Homo sapiens: one gene and its partners. The protein of the gene in region 2 interacts with the protein of the main gene of each other region in a pairwise test. Each region holds a gene or a part of one and is shown on either strand. Other genes may lie near its edges.

Region 1 (6,949 bases), on a different chromosome or scaffold from region 2:
CTATAAGTCCTAGGCTCAAGCAGTCCTCCTGCCTCAACCTCCCAAAATGCTGGGACAACAGGCGTGCACCACTGTGTCTGGCCTGTTATTGCTTATTGAGGACTTACCATGTGCCGAGCCTTATTCTAAGCACTATGGAGATAGCAGTGATAGGGGACGTCCCTGCTCTTGTAGAACTGTACTTTAATTCTCCTTTAATTCTCCCCTGCTTACAAAATAATAAAAGAAGGCTTTACTGAGGACCTCCTGGGTGCCCTGCTGTGCAGCTTGCCCTGGTCCTTGCCCTCTGCAGCTTGTTATTGCACTTAGAAGGCAAGGCATGGACATGCCTGAAGGGGTGTGGGAGCTACTGACGTGCCCAGGCCACAGGTACCTCAGAGAAAGGGGCAGGAGCAGGTGTGATTCATCCCTGTGACCCCAGGGCCCAGCCCAGAGCCAGGCACGTGGTGGGGGCTTTTGTTTTTTTTGTTTTTTTTGTTTTTTTTTTGAGGCGGAGTCTTGCTCTATTGCCCAGGCTGAAGTGCAGTTGCATGATCTCAACTCACTGCAACCTCTGCCTTCTGGGTTCAAGCGATTCTCCTGCCTCAGCCTCCCGAGTAGCTGGGATGACAGGCGCCCGCCACCATGCCTGGCTAATTTTTGTATTTTTAGTAGAGACGGGTTTCACCATGTTGGCCAGGCTGGTCTTGAACTCCTGACCTCAGGTGATCCGCCCACCTTGGCCTCCCGAAGTGCTGGGATTACAGGTGTGAGCCACCACACCGGCCTGGGGCTTTGTGAACACTCTGTGAATATGCCGACCTGGGGGTCCAGGAGGCAAGAGAAGGCCCCCAGTATGGGTCAGTCCAGGTTATTTCCAATCCATTCACATTTCTGATGCAGTGTCCTCAGAAGCAGAATGGGATTTCCACAGGCAGGTAAGGGGAGGGTGCAAAGAGAGGGCATTCCAGGCAGAGGGCGTGGCAGGAGTAAAGGCCCAGTGGTTGCAGGTGGGGGAGCACAAATGGCCTGGGGTGGTGGGACTCCAAGATGGATGTGTATTGGGAGGGGAGACAATAGCAGGAGAGGCAGCATAAATCTAAAACCTGTCATCCCTACAGCCCTAGTTGGTGGCTCCTTGGCCATCAGCAAACAGGGTAAACTCAGGTAACCAGGGAGGCAGCGTGACTCTGGGCAGGGAGAGGTGTCCTGATCAGCCAAGCAGCTCCTCAAATATTTGTGCAGCACAGACCATGCACAAGGTGGGGCCATGGGAGAACCCGCAGAACCAAGGCTCCTGCCCAGGTGAAGCTGTTGCACTTCAAAGCCAGAAAGCCCTTAGGTGCCAGTCCTCTCCCTGTACCGATGAGGAAAAGGAGGTGATTCTTTCCACAACCCCGCCCATCATGAGTCAGGACTTAGAAATAAACAAACACCAGCTCGGAGCAACAAAAGCCCTGGGGCTTTGTAACCAGAGAGACCTCAGTTCACATTTGAACCCTGGCCCTCCAACCTCCCTGCTGTGTGACCTTGGCCTGGTTACTCAACCTCTCTTAGTTTCAGCTGTCTCATCTGTTATTGCCCCATAACAGGGCCCCTGTCTCAGAGCTGTCCTGAGGATTAAAGAGATCATGCAGTGCCAGGCACCTAACTGGGGATGGATTCTTTATAGCTGGTATTTTAATCTACCTCTCTGAGTGTGTTTCGTCATTGATCAAATGTGGGCCAAGCCAGGGCATATGCAAAGCTCAGTACATGTGTGTTTCTTCCTTCTTCTATTTTCAGAAGGGTAAAGAGGACTGTCCTGGTCACACCATGGGCCAGTGGCACATAGTAGGGCTAAATAAATGTGTCACTTTATCCATCAGAGTTAAAGAGAATTGCCCAGGTCACCCACTGAGTCAAGAATTTGACGCTGGTGCTCTTTTCTCTGTGTTACAGGTGGGCACTGTATGCAGTTTGGTGCCTGTGAGGTAGGCAGCACACAGTAGGTGCTTAATGAATGCATGTGCATGGAGAGAATGAATAACCCTATTAAGCAAGTGACTGTCAGCATGGCTGGCCAGGAAGCTGGGAGCAGACAACGTTAACATGGAGGCAGAGGTCTGAGGGACAGTGGGAGCCTTGAACCCTCCTCATGTCTCTATCGCCAACTGCCAGCTTCAAGGGAGCCCCACAGGGCACTGGCCCCAGGCCCTCCAGTTCTTTACCTTCCCCTCCAGGGTGGGCTTTGGATTCAGCAGCAGTGTAGCCATTCTCTCCCTGCCCAAGAGAACAGAGTGAGGGGTGGGCTTAGGTGAGGTGAGCTCCAGCCTCAGGGAGGCAGACAACAGGGTTTTCAGAGGGGTCACTGAGAGAGTCTTAGGTAGAACCACGGGTCCGTCACACCCCAGCATCTCACGCCCCAGATGCATCATGCCCGCTTCATATGTCCACACCTTTGCCTGCACTGTGCCCTCTGCCTGGAAAGCCTTTTTCTCTGCTGTCCACCTGATAAATATTCATCCTTCAAACCGGCTTGGGCAGCGACTCCTGGGTGAGGCTTTCCCTGATACCCTCCTCCCCAGTAAAACTGGCCGCTCTTCCCTCCTGTCCACCTGGCTCCTCTGTTTCCATACCAGCACTTGCCACCTGGACTGTATTGCTGGGTCATTGGTAGGGTCCCCTACACCCTGGGAGTGAGCCCCGGGGCAGGACGGGGGCTGATTTTCCTCCGTGTCTCCCATGTATGCCCACTCTCTACTGCCCACTCCTCATCCCAAGGTTTGCTCTCCCAAGATCAGGAGCCTGGTCAGGGCGGCTCTTACCTGGGGACAGCTCTTACTTGGAGACAACTCTTACCTGGGGACAGCTCTCACCTGGGGACAGCTCTCACTTGGGGACAGCTCTTACTTGGAGACAACTCTCACCTGGGGACAGCTCTCACCTGGGGGAAGACCTTGTTCATGTCTTCGGTTTCCTGCTGCCCGACTGGGGCTGTGTGCAGAGAGCTCAGCACGGGTTCCCTGCATTGTCACCAAGGCCAACCTGGAGGAGGGACAAGCAGGAGGCCTTGCCCGGGCCACACCCTCCCTGTGGGCAGGCCCCTGTCAGCTGCCTTCCAAGCAGAGGCAAAGGCAGGAGGGCCCCTCTCCGGCCAGGCTATTCCCTCATCTGCCATCTGACAGCAACATTGCGAGGCTGGAATCCTCATCCCTATTCCACAGATGAAGAGCCAGAGGTTCAGAGAGGGAGAAACTGCCCCAAGTCTCACAGTGCATGGGAGGAGTGAAACCCAGAAACTTTTCAGAAAGTGCATTTTCCTCCACATCAGAGATGGAACCGGAGGAGCTCAGGTTCCAGGGGTATGAAGATGCAGGCAGAAACTCCCAGAATTGACGTTTCGGTGGCTAGAAAGTAGGGGTCATTTTCTCATTGATGTTCTTCTGTTCAACTACATAGGTGACCTAGATTGAAAGAATATGCATTTTCCACTAAAATTATAAAGCAAATATAATTTTAAATTGTTTCATTTAGAAACGTGGCAATGTGAATTTTTACTGCCCCTGAGGTGGTGCTGAGGTAGGGAAGAGGCGGGGGGCTGGTTGCTTGCGTGAACAACCCCTTCTATGTCCCCAGTGAGTGGGTTTCCCTAGCAGCCTGTCCCACTGCTGAGTAAACCAAGGCCCTGGAATCTTGAGGGACAGGTCCAAGGACCCGGACCAAGGGAGGAGAGGTGTCTACCTCCAGAAATGAGCTCAGGAGTTCTTGCACCTGCCTCTGATGCCCATAGATTTTCCAACCTGCAATCAGCCTTTTCTTTTGCATTGGGAAATAAAATGATGAATCCACGTGGGTGCAAGTAGGAGGCACAGACACAGGGGCAGCCCTTGGGAGGCAGCAAGTAACATTGTGAAGAGCTGAGCCCTAGGCCGGGAGAACAGGACTCTCATTAGGGCCCTACCACTGGCTCTGACGGGTGACTCACTCCCCTTCCCTGCGCCTCAGTTCCTTCATCCAGAAAATAAAGATATAAGCTAGATGAAGGGGGTGTTTTAGTTTAAGGTTCCCCAGAATCAGACTCTAAGACAAGATTTGAGGGCAAGTAGAGTTAATTGGGAGTGATCCCAGGAAATGCTGGTCGGGGGGTGAGGGAAATGAGACATGGAAGAGAAGGATCCGATAACAGTCGTGTTATGAAGCAGGTTTCCGCTGTGGGCAAGTGGAATTTAGCCCTGCTGGGGCACTCGGGGAAGCTAGGGGAGAAGATGCCCCTCAGAGTTATCCCACTCAAGGTGAGGGGAACTGGGGTAATAATCTGCCAGCTCCTGCCAGTCTTGGTTGAGAATGGCCAGAGGAGGCCAGGCATGGTGGCTCATGCCTGTAATCCCAGCACTTTGGGAGGCCGAGGCAGGTGGATCACCTGAGATCAGGAGTTCAAGACCAGCCTGGCCAACATAGTGAAACCCCGTCTTTACTAAAAATACAAAAAATTAGCCGGGCATGGTGGCAGGCGCCTGTCATCCCAGCTACTCAGGAGGCTGAGGCAGGAGAATTGCTTGAACCTGGGAGGCAGAAGTTGCAGTGAGCCAAGATTGCGCCATTGCACTCCAGCCTGGGCAATAAGAGCGAAACTTCGTCTCAAAAAAAAAGAGACTAGCCAGAGGGTGTTAATTCCTTGTACCACTGGGCTGCCTTAGGCAAGGAGATGTCAGTGATGGCAACTTAGCAGCTGCACGCTAAGCTAATATGTCCTGAAATGGAAAGCGCTGATAGCATGGGCAGGGCACCCATGGTCCCTACTAAAGACACTAACTAGATTTTATCTGGCATGTCAGCTGCAATTGATTGCAAAAGGCTCTCTGGAACATGGGCCTCAGAAGGATTCTGAGGTCAGAACTGTGATTGACTAGTGATGCCTGCCATGGGTGTAAGAGTGGAGAGGGGTATCAGACATGATGGCTTTCACTCGCATCCGTGTGAAGAGACCACCAAACAGGATTTATGTGAGCAATAAAGCTGTTTATTTCACCTGGGTGCAGGTGGGCTGAGTCCGAAAAGAGTCAGCGAAGGGAGATAAGGGTGGGGCCGTTTTATAGGATTTGGGTAGATAAAGGAAAATTACAGTCAAAGGGGGGTTGTTCTCTGGCGGGCAGAGTGGGGGTCACAAGGTGCTCAGTAGGGGAGCTTTTGAGCCAGGATGAGCCAGGAGAAGGAATTTCACAAGACAGTGTCATCAGTTAAGGCAGGAACCGGTCATCTGGATGTATACGTGCAGGTCACAGGGGATATGATGGCTTAGCTTGGGCTCAGAGGCCTGACAATGACCATTTGCCATTCCTGGACATATTAATGCCCTTCAGCCTCTGGCCTTCCTTGACTCCGTGATTCTTAAGTGTTCCTTTATAAAAAGACTCCCCGGGGCTTTGAAATGCCCTTTCATCTGCTGAGTCCAGGTACAGCCACATACAACTATGCTGAAAGCACTGCGTCTCTCCAGGGCTCAGGCTGTCACCAAGAACCCTTGAGGGAAGGGCAGCAGGGGGCCTGGTGACATGAAGGACAGGCCCTGGTGCCTCAATCCTTGAACTTCCTGGAATCATATCCCCTGCAATTCACAGTCTCACTCTCAAGGGGAGGGCATGGATGGAAGGGAGGCAGATATTATTTATTGAGCAGCTACTATGCTCCAGGCACTACACCAGCCACCTTACACACGCCCTCTCCCTTGATCCTCACAACAACTCTGAAAGATAGGTAATATTATTACACCCACTAGACAGATGCAGAAACTGGGTTCAGAGAGGTTAAGTAACTTGCCAAAGCCACACAGTGGGTAAACAGCAGAGCAGAGATTTTAACCCAGGTCAGTTTTGCCTCCAAGCAGAGTTGATTCACACTCCCTCCCTTGTGGATGAGAATTTCTGTTGATCACATCTCTGTCAACACTTAGTACCATCAGACTTTTTGATTTCCTCCAGCCTGACAACTGTGAAATACCATCAGTGGCTCGCCGCCTTTAGGATTTGCAGTCCTCTTTTGCTTAACCTCAGATGTGTCTCATTCTAAAGCAGGGAGATGCTGGGCACTGTGGCTTGCACCTGTAATCCCAGGACTTTGGGAGGCCAAAGTGGGTGGATCGGTTGATATCAGGAGTTCGAGACCAGCCTGGCCAACATGGTGAAACCCTGTCTCTACTAAAAATATAAAAATTAGCCAGGCACGGTGGCCCACGCCTGTAATCCCAGCTACTTGGGAGGCTGAAATGGGAGAATCGCTTGAACGAACGGAAGGCAGAGGTTGCAGTAAGCCGAGATCGTGCCACTGCGCTCCAGCCTGGGTGACAGAGTGAGACTCTGTCTCAAAATAAATAAATAAATAAATAAAGCAGGGAGAATGGTGAGTGGTGGATGGAGAGTTCTAGCAGCAGCTTAAGGCGGTGCCCATATTATGAGGGTTAGAGGAGGAAATTGGAAAGAGTGGAAAACAGGGCTGCCAGAGTCCCTCAGGGAAACTCAGAACTTTGATCAGCAGAGTCAAAGGGACCTCAGGCTCAGAGAGAACAACGGCCTCACTTTACAGAAGGGGGATCTAAAGTCCGGAAAGAAGAGGGGACTTGTGCAAGGCCATACCGTGGTCAGTGTCCCAGTACAGCGAGCACTCCTTCCACAGCAGCAGATGGCCTCAGGGACATTGGCACGTGCAGCCTCAATTTTTTTTTTTTTTGAGACAGAGTCTTACTCTGTTGCCCAGGCTGGAGTGCAGTGGCGCGATCTCCGCTCACTGCCATCTCTGCCTCCTGGGTTCACGCCATTCTCCTGCCTCAGCTTCCCAAGTAGCTGGGACTACAGGTGCCTGCCACCACGCCCGGCTAATTTTTTGTATTTTTAGTAGAGACAGGGTTTCACTGTGTTAGCCAGGATGGTCTCGATCTCCTGACCTCGTGATTTGCCCACCTCGGCCTCCCAAAGTGCTGGGATTACAGGTGTGA
Region 2 (7,034 bases):
GTTGAGAGAAATATGAACTATGTATACATTTAAGAAAGATTAATAAAAACCAGATAGGCCAGGTGCAGTGGCTCATGCCTGTAATCCCAGCACTTTGGGAGGCCAAGGCGGGCAGTTCCCCTGAGGTCAGGAGTTTGAGACCAGCCTGGCCAACATGGTGAAACCCTGTCTCTACTAAAAATATAAAAATTAGCTAGGCTGGTGGCATGTGCCTGTAATCCTAGCTACTTGGGAGGATCGCTGGAGCCCAGGAGGCAGGGGTTGCATTGAGCCCAGATCATGCCACTGTACTCCAGCCTGGGTGACAGAGCAAAACTCTGTCCCAGGAAAAAAAAAAAAAAGCCAACAAAGATAATTACCCAGTATTTGGTGAATCAGTGAGTAACAGTGGTTGTGGTGGTCTATTAAAAACATGGAATCATGTTTGAGAAATGAAAATTGTCAGGAGCACATCCAGCTCCATGCAGATCAAAAACAATTCAAATACGGTGGGATCTCTGAGTGCTTTTGTGCCATAGCGTTTATTGTCATGCATTTGTATGATCACCGTAGACTTTACCAATTTTTATTCGATAATAATTTGTATTCATCCATTCATTCATTTTTCAACCCTCTTATTCTGGTTTGGGGTGCTGGTGGCTGGAGCCAATCCCAGCAGCTCAAGGAGGGAGGAACCCACCTTGGATAGGAGGCCACTCCATCACAGGATACACTCATGTACACACTCACACTCAACCCAGGACAACTTAAACATGCCAGTGAACCTAATGTGCACTGTTTTGGGATATGGGAGGAAACCAGAGTCCCACAGATGTGGGGAGAATATGCAAGCCCCACACATACTTAAATGTTATAACAAAATGACATAGAAATGATGTTATTTGAGGACCTGCTGTATTTGGTTTAAGGTACAGCTTGTTTTGGGTTATTCTTTTGGGTAAAAGTTCTAACATATAGTTTCTTTAAATCTGTTACTCTGTAGATGTAATTGGTTTGATCAGTCACTGTATTAATAGCTCCAGAGCCAATCTCATAAAAAGGAAATGCATACAACAAATTGTTCCCTGGATCTTAATTTTAATCTAAAATAAAATAGTGTTAAATGGGAAGTGTTTTACCAAAAATATAGATTCAAATTGTTATTCCTTTTTATGATTTTATAGTTTTATAGAATGTTATCTTAAGTAACATTTTAATAAGATTTGATGTTAAGTACTGAAGACTGTCAAGCTTGGAACACATAGTAATTATTATTATCTCACTACCACAGACATATCCTATTTACAGACTTCTACTTAATAGTAGTAGTTTCCATCATGCCTTCTTTCAGAGATCCCACAAGCTATTGCTGCCTGTGGGGCCTATACTTTGATGATTAATAAAATAAGAATTTACATGTCATTACAGAAAAATTATATATAGACTGAAAATTAACTGTATTAACTGTCCAGAGATAATCGTTATTAACACTTGGGGACATTTTGTTTTCAATCAGTATACTTATGTGTCAATTTTGAAATAAGAAAAATGAAAAACGGAGAAAAAAAGTCAGTAATTAACTGCCAGACATAGTGACTGTTAACATTTGTTGATATATTATTGTTAATCAACATATTACTACCTTACCCCAGGTGTCAGATTTTATTTTCTCCTAAGTCCTTTTATACATCCCATAAAAGCCCATCTCAACCTGTTAGCCCATTCCTGAGAGAGGAAAGTGCTGAAGGGAGCAGAAGGAAGTGCTGAAAGAATGGCAAAGGGGAAGGTAAGTATCAGGCATGACTAGTTAGAACCCGGCATTTACTTTGGCAAAGAAACCATATGGTTTATGGTGTTTAGATTCTGTAGTGTTCAACTTGGGTCTATTATATTCTGAATTATATAGTAGACTGGGCATTTTTGGCTTGAGACTCTGTCCCCCTTCATAATATTGGTCTGTAGCAAGGAGTTCCAAACACTCAACTTCTATCAAATTTTCTTTCCTTAAAGAGTTATTAACTACCTGTATTTTTCTAGCATATATTCTTCATTGTCTAAACAGGTGGCTAAAGGCTGTTATTTAGGTTGTCTATAACACTTCTACTTAGAAAATAGCAGCTTATAAAAGCAGAACTACCATTCGACCCAACAATCCCATTACTGGGTATATATCCAGAGGAGTGTAAATCTTTCTGCCGTAAAGACATACACCCATGAATATTCATTGCAGCACTATTCACAATAGCAAAGACATGAACCGGCCTAAGTGCTCATCAGTGACAGACTGGATAAAGAAAATGTGGTACATATACACCATGCAATACTATGCAGCCATAAAAAAGAATGATATCATGTCTTTTGCGGGAACATGGATGGAGCTGGAGGTCATTATCCCTAGCAAACTAACATAGGAAAAGAAAACCAAATACCACAGGTTCTCACTTACAGGTGGGAGCAAGATGATAAGAACTTATGAACACAAAGAAGGAAACAACAGACGCTGGGGTCTACTTGAGCGGGGAGGATGGGAGGAGGCAGAGGAGCAGAAAACTGTTGGGTACTGGGCTTAATAACGGGATGATGAAGTAATACATACAACAAGCTCCCCATGACATGTGTTTACCTGTGTAACAAACCTTCACACATACCCCCAAACTTAAAACAAAAGTTAAAAATAAGGGACATAGCAGCTTAAACTTGACATATATTTAATGACTTTTGTTTGAATTCTTCAGGTAAAATATAAATAGATTTTCTTTTGTTCTTTATTGAGATTCATCCTTTAAGTTGCTTATGTTGATATTTGCTTATGTTGATATTTGCTTATTGTAGATCTAGTGGATTGGAAAATTATGGGAAGATTTTATTTATATTTGAGTAGTCACTTTTTTTTTTTTTTTTTGAGACAGTCTTGCTGTGTTGCCCAGGCTGGAGTGCAGTGGCACGATCTCGGCTCACTGCAAGCTCCACCTCCCGGGTTCACGCCATTCTCCTGCCTTAGCCTCCCGAGTAGCTGGGACTACAGGTGCCCGCCACCATGCCTAATTTTTTTGTGTTTTTAGTAGAGACGGGGTTTCACCATGTTAGCCAGGATGGTCTCGATCTCCCGACCTCGTGATCCACCCGCCTCGGCCTCCCAAAGTGCTGGGATTGCAGGCGTGAGCCACTGCACCTGGCCGAGTAGTCACCTTTTATGAAGATGTGTAGCAGAATACAGTTAAGAAAGGAATAATAATTAGACTTGGTAATTCCTATTTGAACATATGGTTTTGTGAGGTTTTTGGGCTTAAGTGGTCTTAAAAGGTCAGAAATTTTAAAAATTATTTTGAGACAAAACATGGGAAAGGAGGGAGTTGGCCAGGAGTTTATCATGAAGCATATACAGGAGTCATCCCCTACGTTGACACTGGTAAGTTGTACTTCAGTCACATGAAACATGTCACCTTTCCATAAATACTCCATTCCCTTTTGTGATTTTGTTCTTTGCACATGTTGTTCTATCTCTGCCTGGAATGTGTTCTCCACCTTTTGATTGTCTGCCATGCAAGCTTCAGTTGATTCTTAAGGTTCAGTTTAAATATCACTTCCTAGTGAAACCTTTCATTAGTTATTAAGGTGGAATTGGTTGTCACCTCTACTGGTTTTTAATAGGGCTTTAGTGTTATCTATATGAGGATATCTGTCAGATTATAGCACAATTTCAATTTACATGTTTGTATCCCCAGCTAGACTGATAGTTTCTGAAGTAAAGAAACTGTGTGTTTATTTAGTATCCTAGTACTTAGTGCATAATTGGTATGCTTCAATAAATCACTAAAGTTAAATAAGGGATTTTTATGACTAAAACTATTAGAAAATTGTTAATTAAAAATAATGCTGTGGGCAGGGCATGGTGGCTCACATCTATAATTCCAACACTTTGGAAGGCCTAGGCGGGACGAATGTTTGAGCCCAGGAGTTCGAGACCAGCTTGGGCAACATAATGAGACCCCATCTCATTTTTAATTAATTAATTGTTTTTATGAATGGATGAATGAATGACTGACAGGGTCTTGCTCTGTCACCCAGGCTGGAGTGCAGTTGTGCAATCGTGGCTCACTGCACCTCAACTTCCCAGGCTCTAGCGATCTCCCTGCCTCAGCCTCCTGAGTAGCTGAGACCACAGGTGTGCGCCACCATGCCTGGCTAATTTTTGTATTTTTGGTAGGGACAGGGTTTCACTGTGCTGCACAGGCTGGTCTCAAACTCCTGAGCTCAGGTAATTCCTGGGATTACAAGTGTGAATGACCATGCCTGGCCCTCATTTTTAATAATAAGTTAAACAATTTTAAAAATAATGCTGTGATTGACAGATTAACTAGTTCTAATAACAATTTGTTAGTTGGACATGTAAGCTCTAATATTTTCCTCAAGTCTCTTTCTATCACAGGTGAGAAAAATGAGGCTTAGAGGATTCACCTAAATTAATGGTTACCTGATTAACACAGTATTAACCTGAACTAGGCTTTGTATAAATGGGTTTTTAGTATTTGTGAAATACAGAGATATGCCCTAAAGAGATGAGCTCTTTACTGTTTAAAGCATAGTTAACATACTTTAAAGATGATCTTATAATCCTACAACAGCTAACTGTTATTGAAAAAGAAGAGTTTGTTTCTGGAAACAAATTGGGTGTAAAGGAGATGACCAAAAATAGTATCCTGTTTCTTGTCAGATTTAGAAATATGCCATAATCCTAAAGTTATTTGTAACTACTTTATGATTTTATGCCTAAACTTAAATCTGCTTTACACGCTAAAATGTTAATGATATACATTTAATTTATTGGGCTCAATTTTTTACAGTTATCATCTGAAATGTGTGGAATCCTAGTTCTACTGAATACCAACATTTGTATGATGATAATTAGGCCAGATTTTATCCATAGAAGATGGGGCTTCCTGTCATACATTGAGAATTGAAAACCTTTGTTGTGGGAACAGCAGAATCCTATTTTTGGAGTTGTCTGTGACCTTTACTACATTATAATTTATGGCATGGTTGTCAGATGTTTATCATTCTCTTCTCTGCACTGACAACCACTGTATGAGTTTCCTTTTTTTTTTTTTTTTTAATTTCTTAACAGCTAAGCTGTTTAATAGAGTACTTTTTCGATGGAAAGCATACAAAAATAGTTTAGTTTTATTTTCATGTTATCTGATCTTTTTAGAGCATTCTGTTAGTCTAATCATAAATAGTTTTGGGATTTTCTGAACTTGTATATGGCCTAAACAACCATGGAAACTGAAGCTGCTCTCCACCCTTTTATTAAAAGAATGACAATATATATAAATTGGTTGTTTTGACACAAGAGTGGTATTCATTTATAGATGAATTTTAAAATCAAATTGTCTTCTAGGCCCTAGAATCAAGAGTATTGAAAACATGAAAGGTGCTTGTTAGGAGTTTGGGTGTAGAAATGCCAGACTCCTGTCTCTTGAGTTACATGTCAGAGGCAGGAAAGTATCCACAGAGTATCTTATGTCTGTGGATCCATGATTACTCTACTTTTTAGGGGAATGAGAAGAATAAAAATAAAGAATTCTTTACTATTCTTTGTGGGATTTATAAATCCTTTGGTTGTCGTCCTTTCCTCAAGAAAAGTAACGCTGGAAATTAAAAAAAAAATCAAGTTCAAGATGGTATTCTGGTTTTTTTTTTGAGGTGGAAGAAGGAAATAGAAAAGCCATTAGGCAACTCTAATCTTTTGACTAATGTCATATACCATGTTAGGCAACATGTTTGGTGGAAGCTACTATATATCAACTCCTTCAGGAGTCCTTACTTTGTCTGCAGTGAGTCCTGTTTTAGCAATGTAATATCAGATGCATTCTTGTGCGGAAGGAACCTCAATAGTCTTCTGAAAACTTTTGGTGGCCTGCTTTATGACTTGCTAGACAATTGATACTTTAATGATGTTGTATATGCTGAGCATTAATCTCCATCTATACTTTAAGTATGTTCACTTCTTGCAGAACTTCTCAAACTTCAGTATTTTTGGTGGTATTCCTTTTGCTGAAATAATAAATTCCTGGGATTCTTTATGTTTGTAGAATTTAGAATTTTGCTTTTCTCCTTTTAATTTTGTTTATTCTTTTAGTAAACATGGGAGTACTGAAGAAATACTTTATTAAATTGAATTCAAGTAATATCTAAGGCTACAGTCTGATATACTCTAGGATGTTTTTTCCATCTAATTGGTTTAGAAGATTAGAATTTTCTATAGATTGAATAAACAGGACTTGTCTATATTTGGATTGTTTGGAATTTTATTTTTCTACTACTTTCTGACATTTCCACTGATAAGCCATAAGTGAATGTGCATATACCCTTTTTTGGACTTGTGGTAATAAATTAGGACAGTTCATCATTAGATTTACGATGAATCTGTTGGCTTACAAAAGTTCACTCCAGTGGAGTCATTTTCCTTTTGAGATTGCCTAATACTAAACTTGGACATTCTATTTGAAGTTACTTTGTGGTAGCAACATTCCAGAGCTTTGTTGGTCCAGACTGGCTGTTTGAAAGAATCTTCAAGCTGCTTCTGTCTGGTTATGAAAATAATTGTATATGCATAAAAATCAATATATTCTCATTCCTAAATTGACCCATAATGAAGTGCTTCTCATGTTAAAGCTCTGTCTTGAGGAGAATTCATTAAACAACAGCACAGAGATATTTTTCTCTCTAAAACTGACAATTTAGCTTATTGCTGTTGCTATATTGTCTGTAGGTTTGCCTTCATTATTGTTTTTTAAATATTGAAACAATGCTTTACAAGTGTATTTACAAGTAAAATATTCTTCTTAACCCTGTAGGAGTTGGAAATTCAGAATCTTTTCTGGGGGAAGAGAATATGGGGAGGTAGTATTGAGAAAGTCTTAAGGATTTAAAATGAATGCCACTTAATAAATATACCCCCTATTAATGTGAGTGAGTTAGTCAACCTTTTTTTTTGTGCGGGGGTTGGGGGTTGAAAACTAAAGATGGAGTACCTTTTCAAAGGCACTAGAGGT
Region 3 (6,842 bases), on a different chromosome or scaffold from region 2:
CAGAGTGGGAGAGAGTGAGTGGAGATGGACCGCTGCCATAGTGATGGGGTAAGGAGAAGGCCTCTAGGGGTATACGATGACTAAGTGCAGATAAGGCTACTGATGTCAAAACAGGGGTATAGGTGGGACTCATAGCGGACAGACGGAGGTCAGATTGGAGGACTTGATGAAGGAACCAGGCTGGCAGGTTGTGGAGGTGATGGCAGTTATAGAGGTCAAGGGGAGAGTAGCTCAGGACTGTGAGCTTGCAGCCCCAGGGGGAATGCAGTGGCTCTGAGTGCAGATCCCAGGGGTGTTCTAGCAGCAGCAACAGCAGCTGAGGAGCTGGGCTCTGGCCCTCCACCCCGGTGCCCACCTCTGCACTGTTGATGCCGCAGCCCCTCTTGGCCCCTCATCCCCAGCTAGGCACCCCCAGAAAGAGCTCCGTGCAGACAGCAAAGCTCACACCCCCATCTGCAGGGCCCTTTGCAAGTCTTCAGCCTTCTAGGTAAAAATCTAAACACTTTTTGGAAAGTTTTATTTGAAAACTTGGGGACAGGACAGAGACAGCAGGATGGAGACTGTATTCTCCTGCTAGGGTTCTTAGGTCAAAAGCCAGGCTCGGGTCCCTCCCGTCTCTAAGTTCCAGGTCCACTCCAGTCTGTGGACTCCTGAGGAATATACCCACCCACCCACTGTCAGGCCCTTACCCCTCCCCCACCGCCCACTTCCTGTGCCTGAGGAGACACTGAGGCGTGGGGGTAGACTATGAGGGAGCGGGGGTGGGGAGGATCTGGTTAAACTCCAGAAGAAGGAAGTGAGAACCTGGGAGTTTGGGGGCTAAGAGGAACAGATAGAAAAAAGAAATAAGGAGGGGGCTACTGTCTTTGCCTCCTCCATCACGAAAGCTTTGCCCTGAGATGTCTCCCTTGAAGCTCAGATAGGAAGTCCGGGGTAGATCACATCCTGTGACTTGGCAATGGCGCCCGTCTTTGGGTGCTGGTTGGGAAACAGTCATGCCCCTGCTACGGGGGGCTGGGGCAGTGCACGCCCCGCTGTGCCAGGCCCTCCATCTCAGCTGGCTGCAGGCTGGCTGTTGGCATAGGCCTGATCCGGGAAGGAGGCCCGGGCCCTGCGGGTCTGGGCACATACTGAGGCATAGAGCTCCGGCTCGGGGCCCGAGGCCTGGGACTTTGGCTCAGAGTCCAGCACCACCTCCGAGTACTTGACGGGGGTTCCAGGACCGGGGATCCGACCCTGAGGAGGCCGCAGCTGCAGGCTGGTATAGCACATCACCTCCTCTGCAGCCTGGAGATGCAAGGCTGTTAGAAGTTCACTGGACCCTCGGAAAAGCCCGAAAAGCCCCCCACTTCCTTCCCTCCCCCTTTTCTCCAGCCACAGTTGACTCACCCTGGCAGGGCCTCCAAGAGTTGGATCCTGCTGGTCTGGCTCTGGGTCTTGAGACAGCCGTCCTGGGACGGGGAACAGGAATCTGGTCAGCAACTTGTCCTTCCTCCTGCACGCCCCCATCCCAGCCACCCAGGACCTGGCCTCTGTGCCCCTCCTCTCTGCCAGCTCCCTACCTGTCTGTAGATAATGCAGGTTCCCATACAGCGGGACCTCTTCCACAGACTCTCCAGAGCTGCAACGCAGAGTTTAGGGGATGAGTGGGGACTTCTCGGTAAGAGAGAACTCTCAGTCAACCCATCCCTGTTGTCCTTCACCCACCGTCCCTGCCCCGGATGGCTCCTGCTCCGGCCCCTGGTCCACTGGGACAAGTGTGCAGCCAGCGAGATGAGAAATAGCAGCGTCACAGCCCCTAAGAGGACCCACAGTCCCCAGGCCTGGGTTATGGAGGGGATTCCTGTGGATGTGAAAGGAAGGGGGGTGTAACAGCCCCGCCCCACCCCCAGGGCCCAGCAGGTGGGACCTGGGGCCACATGACCCCTCCCCCACCAGCCCCTGCCCTGCCCAGCTCACCCAGTGCGAGTAGATCCGTGCAGTTGTCGCCTCTGCTCATGGCTGCAGATGTGAGAGTCCACAAGCACACTGCTCTGAGCCGAGGGTCAGCCTGGTTCATGGCCTGACGGTTTCCACAGCACTTCTTACTCCCATCCCTCCTCAGGCCCGTACCCCGCAGCTCAGCATCCCCAATACTGGTGGTGGCAAAGTCTCTGGTTTCCGGGGAGGAAGGGGGAGGGGAGGGATGAAAAAAAGAACAAAGACCCCGCCCTGTGCCTGCACCTGCGCCACTCCTGCAGCTCCTGAGCTTCCCCCACCCTCGCTGCCCAGGCCCTTTGCCCCCCTTGAGAAGAGAAGCAGGCCTGTGGGTAATGTGCCACGGGCAGTTGAGTCCCTGAGGACTCTGAGGGCGGGGGGTGGGGGCAGAAGTGGTGTGAAGCAGGACTAACAAGGACAGGAACACCCCTTCTGCTCCAGGATGCCCACCTTCCTCCCTGACTCTGGTCCCAGAAGAAAGATGTATTCCTCAATGAGTATGGTATAAAGTGGAAGGGTCGGGGGAGCCTCCTGGTACCTCTGATCCCATCACACCCTAAGGCTGATCTGAGAGGATATGTGTTTAGATGATGCTTGTTATTGTTTCATTGGGGGCATTATAATTTGGGGGACACCCCCAAACCTCCCCTTTCAACCCACTTCATCCAAACTGTCTGTAAGAACTGTCACTCTCAATAATTAATTGCATTTTAAAACTCTTTGCTGTAGGACTGTCCTGGGAAACTGAGCCCTATCTTGCACATGTTCACTTCAGCGGGTGTAGTACCTGCCATACCTAGAGCTAACTCCATCACGTGCAAGGCTATTGATGTAGGAAGAGGGATTTTAAGTTGCAAATATAAACCTGAGACCAGAAGTCAGAGATGTGTTTTGTCTAGCCCATACAACATTTTTTAAAAGTTTAAAATCAGTGCAGTGGCATGCCAACAATAGGGATGGCAGAAGTCCTGCCCCTTGAGTTGCAGGCAATAAGGGGGTGCATTGTCTGTAGAGAATTTAAAAAATAAAAATCAGTCCTCTTATTATCACCATGTTCCAGAAATTCTGAAAAAAAAAATCAGTGATAAAATTATCCTCCCTGAAAAATATTTTATGGATCTAAGTTTTATATTTTTTTTGAGACAGGGTCTTACTTTGTCTCCCAGGTTGGAGTGCAGTAACACAATCTCAGCTCACTGCAGCCTTGACGATCTCCCGGGCTCAAGTGATCCTCCCATCTCAGCCACCTAAGCAGCTAGGACTACAGGCATGTGCCACCACACCCAGCTAATCTAGTTCATTTTTTGTAGAGATAGGTCTCCCTGTGTTGCCAGGCTGGTCTCAACTCCTGACCTCAAGCAACCTGCCCACCTCGGTCTCCCAAAGTGCTGGAATTACAGGCATGAGCCACTGCGCCCAGCCCAGATCTAACTTTTAAATTGCTGTAGTGGACCAGGTGCAGTGGCTCATTCCTGTAATACCAGCACTTTGGAGGCCAAGGCAGCAGGAGGATTGCTTGAGGCCAGGAGTTCAAAACCAGTCTGAGCAATATAGTGAGACCCTCCATCTCTACCAAAAAACAAACAAAAACAGTAGACAGGCCTGATGACACAAGCGTGTAGTCCTAGCTACTTGGGAGACTGAGGTGGGAGGATCACTTGAGCCCAGGAGTTGGAGGCTGCAGGGAGCTATGATTATGCCACTGCACTCCAGCCTGGGCGACAGACGGAGAGACCCTGTCTCTACAGTAGATGCACAAATACCATTGTCTTACAACTGCCTACAGTATTCAGTATGGTAACATGCTGTAAGCATTGGGGCCTAGGAGCACCAGGCTATACCATGTAGCCTAGATGGGTAATAGGCTACACCATCTAGGTTTGTGAAAATACACTCTATGATGTTTGCACAATGACAAAATTGCCTAGTGACTCATTTCTCAGAACATATCCCTGTTGTTAAGCAATGCATGGCTGTTTTTATGCTGACATGATTATATTTACAAAGTTCAAGGAAAGAAAATATTCACTGAGTTTATTTCTTGGCCCTTATTATTCATTTTATAATTGCCATTGAGAATAATTTTGTCATATAAAGAATGTTTAAATTTGTTTTAATTTTATTTATTTATTTATCTGAGATGGAGTCTCCCTCTGTCGCTCAGACCAGACCGCAGTGGCACAATCTCGGCTCACTTGCCCAGGCTGGAGAGAAGTGGCGTGCCTGGCCATAAAGCATTTTTTTAAATGATCCACTTGAAAAATAAAACTTTGTTCCAGGCATGGTGGCTCATGCCTGCAATTCCAGCACGTTGGGAGGGTGAGGCAAGAGGATCGCTTGAGCCCAGGAGTTCAAGAACAGCTTGGGCAACATGGCAAAACCCCGTCTTTACCAAAAATACAAAAAATTAGCCAGGTGTGATGGTGCACGCCTGTGGTCCCAGCTACTCGAGAGGCTGAGGTGGGAGGATTGCTTGAGCCTAGGAGGTAGAGGTTTCAGTGAGCCAAGATCAAGCCTCTGCACTCCAGCCTGGGCAACAGAGTGAGACCCTGCCCCCCACCCCCAAAAAAAGAAAGAAAACAAGAAAAATTTGGGTCTGGGCATGGTGGCTCACGCCTGTAATCCCAGCACTTTGGGATGCTGAGGTGGGTGGATCACCTGAGGTCAGGAGTTTGAGAGCAGCCTGGTCAACATGGTGAAACCTCGTCTCTACTAAAAATACAAAAATTAGCCGGGCATGGTGGCAGGTACCTGTAATCCCAGCTACTCTGGAGGCTGAGGCACAAGAATTGCTTAAACCCAGGAGGTGGAGGCTGCAGTGAGCCAAGATCACTCCACTGCACTGCAGCCTGGGCGACAGAGCAAGACTCCATCTCAAAAAAAAAAAAAAAAAGAAAGAAAGAAAAATTTGGGCCAGGTGTGATGGCTCACACCTGTAATCACAGCACTTTGAGAGGCTGAGGTGGGAGGATAGCTTGGGCCCAAGAGTTTGAGACCAGCCTAACCAACATAGTGAGATTCCCATCTCTGCAAAAAATTAAAAAATTAGCGAGGCATGGGGGCATGTGTGCCTGTAGTCACAGCTACTTAAGAGGCTGAAGTGGGAAGATTGCTTGAGCCTGGGAGATAGAGGCAGCAGTAAGCCATGATTGTGCCACTGCACCACTCCAGCCTGGGCAACAGAGTGAGAGCTTGTCTCAAAAAAAAAAAAAAAAAAAGACAGAAAAGAAAGAAAAATGTTTTTTAAATGATCCGGAACAGGCAAGGTGGCTCACACTTGTAATCCCAGTACTTTGGGAGGCTGAGGCAGGCAGATTCCTTGAGGCCAGAAGTTCAAGACCAGCCTGGGCAATACCCTGGTCTCTACAAAAAACAAACAAACAAACAAACAAAAAACAACAACAAAAAAACACACAAATTAGCTGGGCATGGTGGTGTGCACCTGCAGTCCCAGGTACTCAGGAGGCTGATCCAAGAAATTTGGGGCTGCAGTGAGCCATGGTCTCACCACTGCACTCCTGACTGGGCAGCAGAGGGAGACCCTGTCTCTCTCTCTCTCTCTCACACACACACACACACACACACACACACACACACACACACAAAGACCACTTGGTGTCAAATATGCTAAGTATGCCACTGATTCCTTGTCAACAGTTAAAAATTGGGAGATTTCAAATTTTTAAAATTCTAATTTGTTGATTCCTTCAAAAAAAGATCTGGCAATAGTGCCCTGAGTTCTCTAAAGGCAATAATCAGTTGGGGACCACTTATCATTATTATATCTGGCCTGAACCCCTTATTTACACCGACTGTGCCAACTGGCTTAGATTCAAGATTTCTATTACCCTGCTTTGCGTACCCAGGCTGTCACTGGGTCATCAGCTAGACCACTGGTCCCCAGCCGTTTTGGCACCAGGGACAGGTTTTGTGGGAGACAATTTTTCCATGCACAGGAGTATGGGAGGAGGGGATGGTTTTGGGATAAAACTGTTCCACCTCAGATCATCAGGTATTGTGGTTTTTTTGTTCTGTTTTGTTTTTTTGACAGGGTCTCGCTCTGTCACCCAGGCTGGAGTGCAGTGGTGCAATCTTGGCTCACTGCAACCTCGCCTCCTGGGTTCAAGCAATTCTTATGCCTCAGCCTCCCAAGTAGCTAGGATTACAGGCATGCGCCACCATGCGCAGCTAATTTTTGTATTTTTATTAGAGACTTTTTTTTTTTTTTAACCATATTGTCCAGGCTGGTCTTGAACTCCTGGCCTCAAGAGATCCACCCACCTTGGCTTCCCAAAGTGCTGGGATTACAGGCATCAGCCACTGCACCTGGCCTAGATTTTCATAAGGAGCCCACAACATCACGTGCATGCACAATTCACAATAGGGTTCGTGGCCCTATGAGAATCTAACACTGCACTGATCTGACAGGAGACAGAGCTCAGGCGGTAATGCCAGGATGGAGAGTGGCTGTATATACAGATGAAGCTTCCCTCGCTACTCCGCCGCTCACCCTTGCTCCTCCGCTGCTCACCTCCTGCTGTGCGGCCCAGTTCCTAACAGGCCATGGACCAATAGTGTTGGGGACCCTTGAACTACACTATGATAACTCCCCTTGGTGAGGGTTTCTCCCTGTCCTGCCCTTCCTCCTCCTTTCAGGAAAAACAAGAAGACACACCCATATTTCATTTATTTATTTATTTATTTATTTATTTATTTATTTATTTAGAGATGGAGTCTTGCTCTGACACTGAGGCTGGAGTGCAGTGGCGCGATCTCTGTTCACTGCAACCTCCGCCTCCCAGGTTGAAGCTATTCTTATGCCTCGGCCTCCTGAATAGCTGGGATTACAGGTGCTGGCCACCACA
Region 4 (7,657 bases), on a different chromosome or scaffold from region 2:
GGAATATCCCTGGCCAAACCACCTGAACATAAGAACATCTTATCAATATCCTCCAGGGCAGCAAGCCATACTGCCCAAAACCCTCCTGCCCATACCTGTACATACCCCAGCCTGTAAGCAATGGCGGGCTCTGGCATTAAGCTGGTCCCCCACCTCCACAGGTTTTTGTAATAAACCTGTGTTGTTGTAAAGCCTCTCTCTCTCTCCCTCTCCCCCTCTACCCCCTCCCCCTCCTCTCTCTCTCTCTCTCTCTGTGTCTTTCTTGAACCCCACCTTCCCTTTAAAAAATCTAACACTTAAGACTTTTTGTAGAAATAAGACACCAAATTCCAGCCTGACTCCAGTATAGCATCACATGACAGATAGCAGGCCTTGAAAGAAATTGAAGTATTTTACCCTAAAATATATTTCTTTGTCATATTTTGAAATGGTCCTGCAAAGTTGTCTCTTGTGGGGAAAGTCTACATTCTGTAGAAAATCCCTTTCCCTTGCCAGGTCTTTTCTCTGATCCAGGAGAGAATTAACAGAGTCTGGCACCTTTTCAAGTCTCATAAGAAACATTTACAATCTATTCTCTCCAAACGCTGCTACCTGGAAGCTTCATTTGCATAGTAAGAACCTTGGCCTCCACAACCCCTTATCTTAACCCAGGCACTCCCTTCTATGGATTTGAGGTCTGTAGATAAACTCTTTTAATCAATTGCCAATCAGAAAATCTTTAAATCCACCTATGACCTGGAAGCCCATGCCCCACTTCCAGTTGTCCCGCCTTTTGGGACCAAACTAATGTACATCTTACATGAATTGGTTGATGTCTTATGTCTCCCTAAAATGTATAAAACCAATCTGTAGCCAGACCCCTTTGGGCAGATGTTCTTAGAATCTCCTTGGGCTGTGTCACCGGCCACTCGTCCCTCATGTTTGGCTCAGAATACAGCTTTTCAATTATTTTACAAAGTTCAACTCTTCATCAACATCTTTTTTTTTTCTTTGAGATGGAGTCTCGCTCTGTTGCCAGGCTGGAGTGTAGTGCTGTGATCTCAGTCCACTGCAACCTCCCCCTCCCAGGTTCAAGCGATTCTCCTGCCTCAGCCTCCCTAGTAGCTGGGACTACAGGAGCGTGCCACCATGTCCAGCAAATTTGTGTATTTTAAGTAGAGACGGAGTTTCACCATGTTGGCCAGGATGGTCTCGATCTCTTGACCTCGTGATCCACCTGCCTTGGCCTCCCAAAGTACTCGGATTACAGGGGTGAGCCACCGTGCCCGGCCCTAACACCTTGTCATTAAACATTCCCTGTCCACCATTAATCATCATTCACCCAGTCTCCTCTCCTCTCTCCCCACCCCTACCCCCACTCCATCCAGCCCCCTAACATTCTGGCCCCAGTTCACACAGCCCCCTGCACAAGCAGCAAACAGGGAGGATGAGCACCTCTGTCAGCTTTGGGACATCTGTGGACCTGCAGGCCTAGGATAAAGGCGCATGCAGGTTTGGTAGCACCTGTGAGTCAGGATGCTACCAACAGTGAGCCTTAGACCTGCTAAATTAGGTTTAGCCTAAAGCTGCCTTCTGACATATTTTAAGTTCAGCCTAAAGGTTTCTCCGTACATCGTGAACTATATGCTTCCGTTTTCTGGGAGTCGCTTTCCTTTTTCTGTCCATAAATCTTCTTCTACCACGTGGCAGCCCCAGAGTCTCTCTGAACCTATTCCGGTTCCCCATGCCCAACTGTGAATCGTTCTTTGCTCAATTAAACTCAGTTAAATGTAATTTGTCTAGGGTTTTCCTTTTAACAGATCTAAGTGCTTCTTTAATTAGAAACAAATATCCTGCTCTTCTCCACAACAGATTGTGTGAATCAAACCACAAAACGTGAGTCTGAAGGTTCAAGATCTTCATACAATCTCAAAACAGACTGGCTAGGCAAGACATTGAGCATGCACGGAGGCCTGGACTGGATCCTCAGCTGTGAGGCCTTCCTGCTTCTGGCTGTTTGTGTAACCTGAGCAGTCTACGGCTTGGCCCTATTTCCTGGTACAGGCATACTTGGAAATATAAAGAAATATGCATGCTTGGTAAGAAGTCTTGCACTCTTGCACTCGGACCCCTTTCCCCAGCTGACATTGTAGGTAAGATAATATGAATTGAGCAAATGTGACTCCCATGGAGTAAAAGCCCTCTATTTAACCAGGCAGTCGAGATATTGAATAATCCTAGTGGGAAGCTGTTTTAAAATTTAGAGCTAATTACTTAATCTAAAGCTAATATTTCTGAAGGAAGTTTTTTTCAATCTGATAATCATACCACCATAGGCAGTTTATTTAAGAAAACACATTAATTAAAACATCAACGTTCAAGAAATCACAACCAGGTTTAGAAGCAGGCACGTTTCCTTTGGAACACTTGTAATTAATATTCACACCACTTCCTGCAGGTTAGCAGGCTACTAACGCTCGTTTGAACGGGCTGTGGGTCGTAATCACAGATGATGCAGAATCGCTGAGCTCTGAGGCCCCACAGCGTTCCAGTTGGGAGAACTAATCTCTGGAATGTTCTCAGTCTCTGCTTGCCCCTGGGAAGGAGGGTAGCAGGCGGCATGGGTGACCCTGAGGCGACTGTGCTCTGAGGACCCAGAGCTACCTGCAAGGGCAAGTAGGAAACAAAACACCGGACCCATCTCCCTCCCTCCCTCTCTCTCCCGCAAGCCTTGTCACACACACACACACACGCACACACGCGCACACACACGAACTTCCCATGCCTCTTACTTTGCTGACAGGCCGAGAGAATAGAGACAGCAGCCAGCAGGATCGAGTTCCCGGCCATCTTTCTCACGGAACTATTTGTAGAGCGCACGGGAAGATAAATGGCGCTTCTTGACTTTGAATGCTGACCTTCCTTATCGGGTAAACAAAGTTGGGGACCGGGTGGGGGGAAAAGGCTGATTCAAGCGGCTGAATGACCTTTGCTCTGGAACAGAAGTCAGGAAGGCAGGCAGGTCTGGGGCTGCCGGTCACAGATCTTTATGGGGCTGGGAGTTGCTTCCGGCGTTTGTTTTAAGCCTCTCCCACGGCCAGCGGGCAGGGCTGTAGCTCACTGTGGGACCAGCCCTCCAGCCGCAGTGCCAGTTACACTATCTTCTCTGCCAATGCACAGACTCTCTGGATCCCTTTCATCCCCACGCCCTTCCCTCCTAGGGCCTTGCTGAGACCTTTCTCACCTCCTGTGGAAAAAGTGAGAAGGAACTACTTACTTAATCCTGTTGACATTTTAAATGCTAATTTAAGCCAGTTCTAATGTATTCACGCTCTGAATGGCCGATTTAGGATTTGAACCCAGTCTAGCAGATTACAACTGTGCCCTATCCCCTGCACCAGGCTGCCTCTCACTGTCACCTAGAGACTCTGATAATAATCATACTTTTTTTTTTTAAGACAGGGTCTTGATCTGTCACCCAGGCTGGAGTGTGTGGTGGCACGATCATAGCTCACTGCAGCCTCCAACTCTTGGGCTTAAGTAATCCTCCTGCCTCAGCCTCCCAAGTAGCTAGAACTACAGCCACAAGTCACTGTGCCCAGCCATTTTTAAAAAAATAAACCGGCCGGGCGCGATGGCTCACACTTGTAATCCCAGCACTTTAAGAGGCCAAGGAGGGTGAATCACGAGGTCAGGAGATCAAGACTATCCTGGCTAACACAGTAAAACCCCTTCTCTACTAAAAATACAAAAAATCAGCTGGGCATGGTGGCACGAACCTGTAGTCCCAGCTACGCAGGAGGCTGAGGCAGGAGAATCTGCTCTTTAGAGATGCAGATTCTGGCCTGGAAGGATGGCTCATGCCTGTAATCCCAACAGTTTGGGAGGCTGAAATGGGCAGATGGTTTGAGCTCAGGAGTTCGAGACCAGCCTGGGTAACATGGCAAAACCCCATCTCTTAAAGAAATACAAAAATTAGCAGGGCATGGTGGCACGTGCCTGTAGTCCCAGCTACTTAGGGGGCTGAGGCAAGGGGATTGCTTGAACCCAGGAGCCTGAGACTGCAGTGAGCCAAGGTCGTTCCACTGCACTTCAGCCTGGGTGACAAAGTGAGACCCTGTCTCAAACAAATAATAAAAATAAAGATGCAGCTTCCCAAAAACCAGAGCTGGGGGCCTTTCCTCACCCCATCCTACAGCACCATTAGAGGGTATATCTTGGCTCAAGCTGCTATAACAAAGATACCATAGACTGGGTGGCTTACAATAGCAATTTATTCGTCACAGTCCTGAAGGCTGGGAAGTCCAAGATGACAGTGCTGGCCAATCAGTTCCTGGTGAGGGCCCTCTTCCTGGTTTGCAGAAGGACACCTTCATGTTGGAGACAGAGAAAGAGTAAGCTTCCTGGTCACTTCTTATAAGGGCACAGATCCCATTATGGGGGCCTATGCTCATAACCTCACCTGTAGCTAATTATCTGCCAAATGCCTGATAACATCACGTTGGGGGTTAGGGTCTCAACATATGAATTGCAGAGGGGACACAAACATTTAGTCCCTAGCAGGGAGCTCCCAGTGTCTTCTGGGGAGGGCAGTTGCCTCAGCCTCACACAGACCCTACAATTTAATAACACAACCTTGGGCCTCTCTGAGCCTCCATTTAATAAGATAGGGCTAATAAGAGCTGAAGAGAAGTTTAAATGACATAATCCTATTCTAAGGATTGAATTAGTTAATACTTATAGAGCACTTAAAACAGCACCTGGCATATACAAATGTGTTCTGTGTGTCTGCAAAATAAACACATAAAGTATCTAGACAAGTACTTAGCATATAATGTACCTAATGTTAAAAAATACTTTCAGAGGCAAAAATCATGCCTTTCATACAACATAAAATGAAAACATATCAAAATTTTTATGTAACTCATTCATGAGGGAACCAGTAAGATGTTATAACCAGTTCAAAGTAGAATTCATGGAACTACACATATACAGGAAAGAAGGAATAACAAAATTAATTTATAAATAGTTGCAAGCCAGGTCTGCTCAAAGTTTCTGTTGGTCTTCAGGCTTCCTTGGCTGTTTGCTCTTGAAATCATTGACAACTAAGATTAGATAAGAAAGTAGAGCCAAGAAGCTGGGGCAGCACCAAAACATTCTTGTATACTCAGTTTAATAGTTTTGGGCTTCAGTACATGGCAGAGATTCTAAACTGCAAACTAGCTGCCCTGAACCCATATCACCATCTACTATAATAACCTCCCAAATGACAGATCTCGAAGGAGAGGTCTACATTAGGCCTGGGGACAGGCAGAGGCTCTCAAAGTCAGAGAACGGCTCGGGAAGAGAGGAACAACAGCAGGAGGAGCTGAGCAGAGAATTGTGGCCCTGGCTGATGACTGTAACTTTTGGGTGTTGGTAACTCTTATTTTGAGAAACTCTTGGGTACACCTGTACTAGTCAACTGGTTTAAAATCTACAACTTCCGGCCGGGCGTGGTGGCTCACGCCTGTAATCCCACACTTTGGGAGGCCGAGGTGGGCGAATCACCCGAGGTTGGGAGTTCCAGACCATCCTGGCTAACACGGTGAAACCCCGTCTCTACTAAAAATACAAAAAAATTAGCCGGGCGTGTTGGCGGGCGCCTGTAGTCCCAGCTACTCGGGAGGCTGAGGCAGGAGAATGGCGTGAACCTCGAAAGCGGAGCTTGCAGTGAGCTGAGATCGTGCCACTGCACTCCAGCCTGGGTGACAGAGCGAGACTTCGTCTCAAAAAAAAAAAAAAAATGAAACTTCCCAGCTTCTGGACAAATCCTGAGGTTCCCTACTGACTTCTCCCAGCCAATCTTAAGTCAGTCCCCCAAATCCAGATTCTAAGAGATGGTTGACACAAAGTAAAAAAATAAAAAATCAATTAATCAATAAAATCTCAAGTGCTTCAAAACCCCACGTGTCTATTTAAAAAGATCTTCATTGTCGGTATATGTAGTTATTGCCTCTAGGAAAGTATAAAAGAATAGAGCATTGTATAATGAAATGTTTATCACCTTCTGCAGTGATAAAATTTCCAGGTGACCCACAGCTGAAATACTGCCATAGCATTAACAAAAACTCACAAAAATTAGAGTTTCTCTGTACGTTTTCCCTGGATTGGTTGAAGAGGAATGGCATTTTCCCTGAATGTTGTTCCCATAGATCCTTCTAGTATGTTCCATTTATTACATTTTTCTATGAAAAGGAAAATAAGAGGACAAACAGCATACTGGTAATTGCTATGGTCTGAATGTTTGTCCCCTCCAAAACTCATGTTAAAATTTAACTTCCATTATAATGGTATTAAGAGGTAGGACAATAAGGGGTGATTAGGCCATGAGAGCTCTGCTCCCATGAATGGATTAATGTTGTTATAGGAGTGGATTGTTATAAATGTGAGCTTGGCCCTCTCTTGCCCCCCCGCTTTGGGATGACATAGCACAAAGGTCCTTACCAGATGCCAGCACCTTGATATTAAACCTCCTAACCTCCAGAACTGTGAGAAATAAATTTCTTTTCTTTATAAATTACCCAGTGTGTGGTATTCTGTTATAGCAACAAAATGGAATAAGACAGTAATGATAGTAAAATGTTTTTAAAATATTTTTATTATCTATGTAAACTCAAAAGAAACCTAAAAGACTTTCTGAGGACTTTGGTTACTACTGAATCACTGTTACCAAAACTATACTCTAGGTAAGGTGAAACAGAGAGGCCAAGATTTGATCACATAAAAACAAACCTGAACCATGTAAAAGAACTGCTTTCATGAAATGTGAACTCTAAATGTAACTCTTTCAGTATAATTTTGGTAATAGATGAAAAGAAATGATATATTAAACTATAGAAATGTTTTTCCTCAGCCGGGCATGGTGGCTCACACTTGTAATCCCAGAACTTTGGGAGGCCAAGGTGGGTGGATCACCTGAGGTCAGGAGTTCAAGACCAGCCTAGCCAACATGGTGAAACCCCATCTCTACTAAAAATACAAAAATTAGCCAGGCATGATGGTGCACATCTGTAATCCCAGCTACTGGGGAGGCTGAGACATGAGAATCACTTGAACCCAAGAGGTGGAAGTTGCAGTGAGCCGAGAATGCGCTACAACACTCCAGCCTGGGTGACAGAGCTTGCTCTGCCAAGCTCTGTCTCCATCTCAAAAAAAAAAAAAAAAAAAAAAAAAGGTTTTTCCTCAAACCAATTGCAACCCCCGCAAATTATTCCCTGGTCTCACCCTCTCTGTTCACTTGCTACCCTTCCAAAATTGACAGCACATCATCCAGGTTTCTGCTGAGCACTACAGCAGGGCTGTCCTCACTGCCATCAGGCCAGGTAGCAGAAAGAGACAGAAAATACACCTCTTTCCCAGGAACTATCAGAGTGATCATGATTATCAATGACCACATAACTCTCCATGTACCCAGAGTTCATTACATTATCTTGCTAGAAGTCCTGACTAGTTGAAGAATCTTGTAACTACACAGCAGTTTTTCTGTGTTTTGTTTTGTTTTGAGACAGGGTCTTACTCTATCACCCTGGCTGGAGTGCAGTGACATGATCATGGCTCACTGCAGCCTCAACTTCCAGGGTTCAAGCAACCCTCCCACCTCAGTCTCCTGAGTAGCTGGGTTTAATAGTGGCTTTAA

Evidence for each region.
Region 1: the proteins of PLN (region 2) and LDLRAD1 interact in binary tests that used the Homo sapiens proteins (3 or more experiments, as listed by UniProt).
Region 3: the proteins of PLN (region 2) and SIT1 interact in binary tests that used the Homo sapiens proteins (3 or more experiments, as listed by UniProt).
Region 4: the proteins of PLN (region 2) and MGST2 interact in binary tests that used the Homo sapiens proteins (3 or more experiments, as listed by UniProt).

The regions. Positions count from the first base shown.
Region 1 is NC_000001.11:54,015,187-54,022,135, forward strand, and holds the start of LDLRAD1 (low-density lipoprotein receptor class A domain-containing protein 1), read right to left. Parts: upstream 3,001-6,949; 5' UTR 2,991-3,000; coding exon of another isoform or gene 2,927-2,990; coding exon 2,906-2,926; intron 2,242-2,905; coding exon 2,190-2,241; intron 1-2,189.
Region 2 is NC_000006.12:118,551,273-118,558,306, reverse strand, and holds part of PLN (phospholamban), read right to left. Parts: intron 1-7,034. UniProt on the Homo sapiens protein: Reversibly inhibits the activity of ATP2A2/SERCA2 in cardiac sarcoplasmic reticulum by decreasing the apparent affinity of the ATPase for Ca(2+).
Region 3 is NC_000009.12:35,648,795-35,655,636, forward strand, and holds SIT1 (signaling threshold-regulating transmembrane adapter 1 precursor), read right to left. Parts: upstream 2,138-6,842; 5' UTR 2,060-2,137; coding exon 1,960-2,059; intron 1,844-1,959; coding exon 1,708-1,843; intron 1,622-1,707; coding exon 1,563-1,621; intron 1,452-1,562; coding exon 1,390-1,451; intron 1,288-1,389; coding exon 1,054-1,287; 3' UTR 501-1,053; downstream 1-500. UniProt on the Homo sapiens protein: Negatively regulates TCR (T-cell antigen receptor)-mediated signaling in T-cells. Involved in positive selection of T-cells.
Region 4 is NC_000004.12:139,661,192-139,668,848, reverse strand, and holds the start of MGST2 (microsomal glutathione S-transferase 2), read right to left. Parts: upstream 3,031-7,657; 5' UTR 2,830-3,030; coding exon 2,772-2,829; intron 1-2,771. UniProt on the Homo sapiens protein: Catalyzes several different glutathione-dependent reactions. Catalyzes the glutathione-dependent reduction of lipid hydroperoxides, such as 5-HPETE.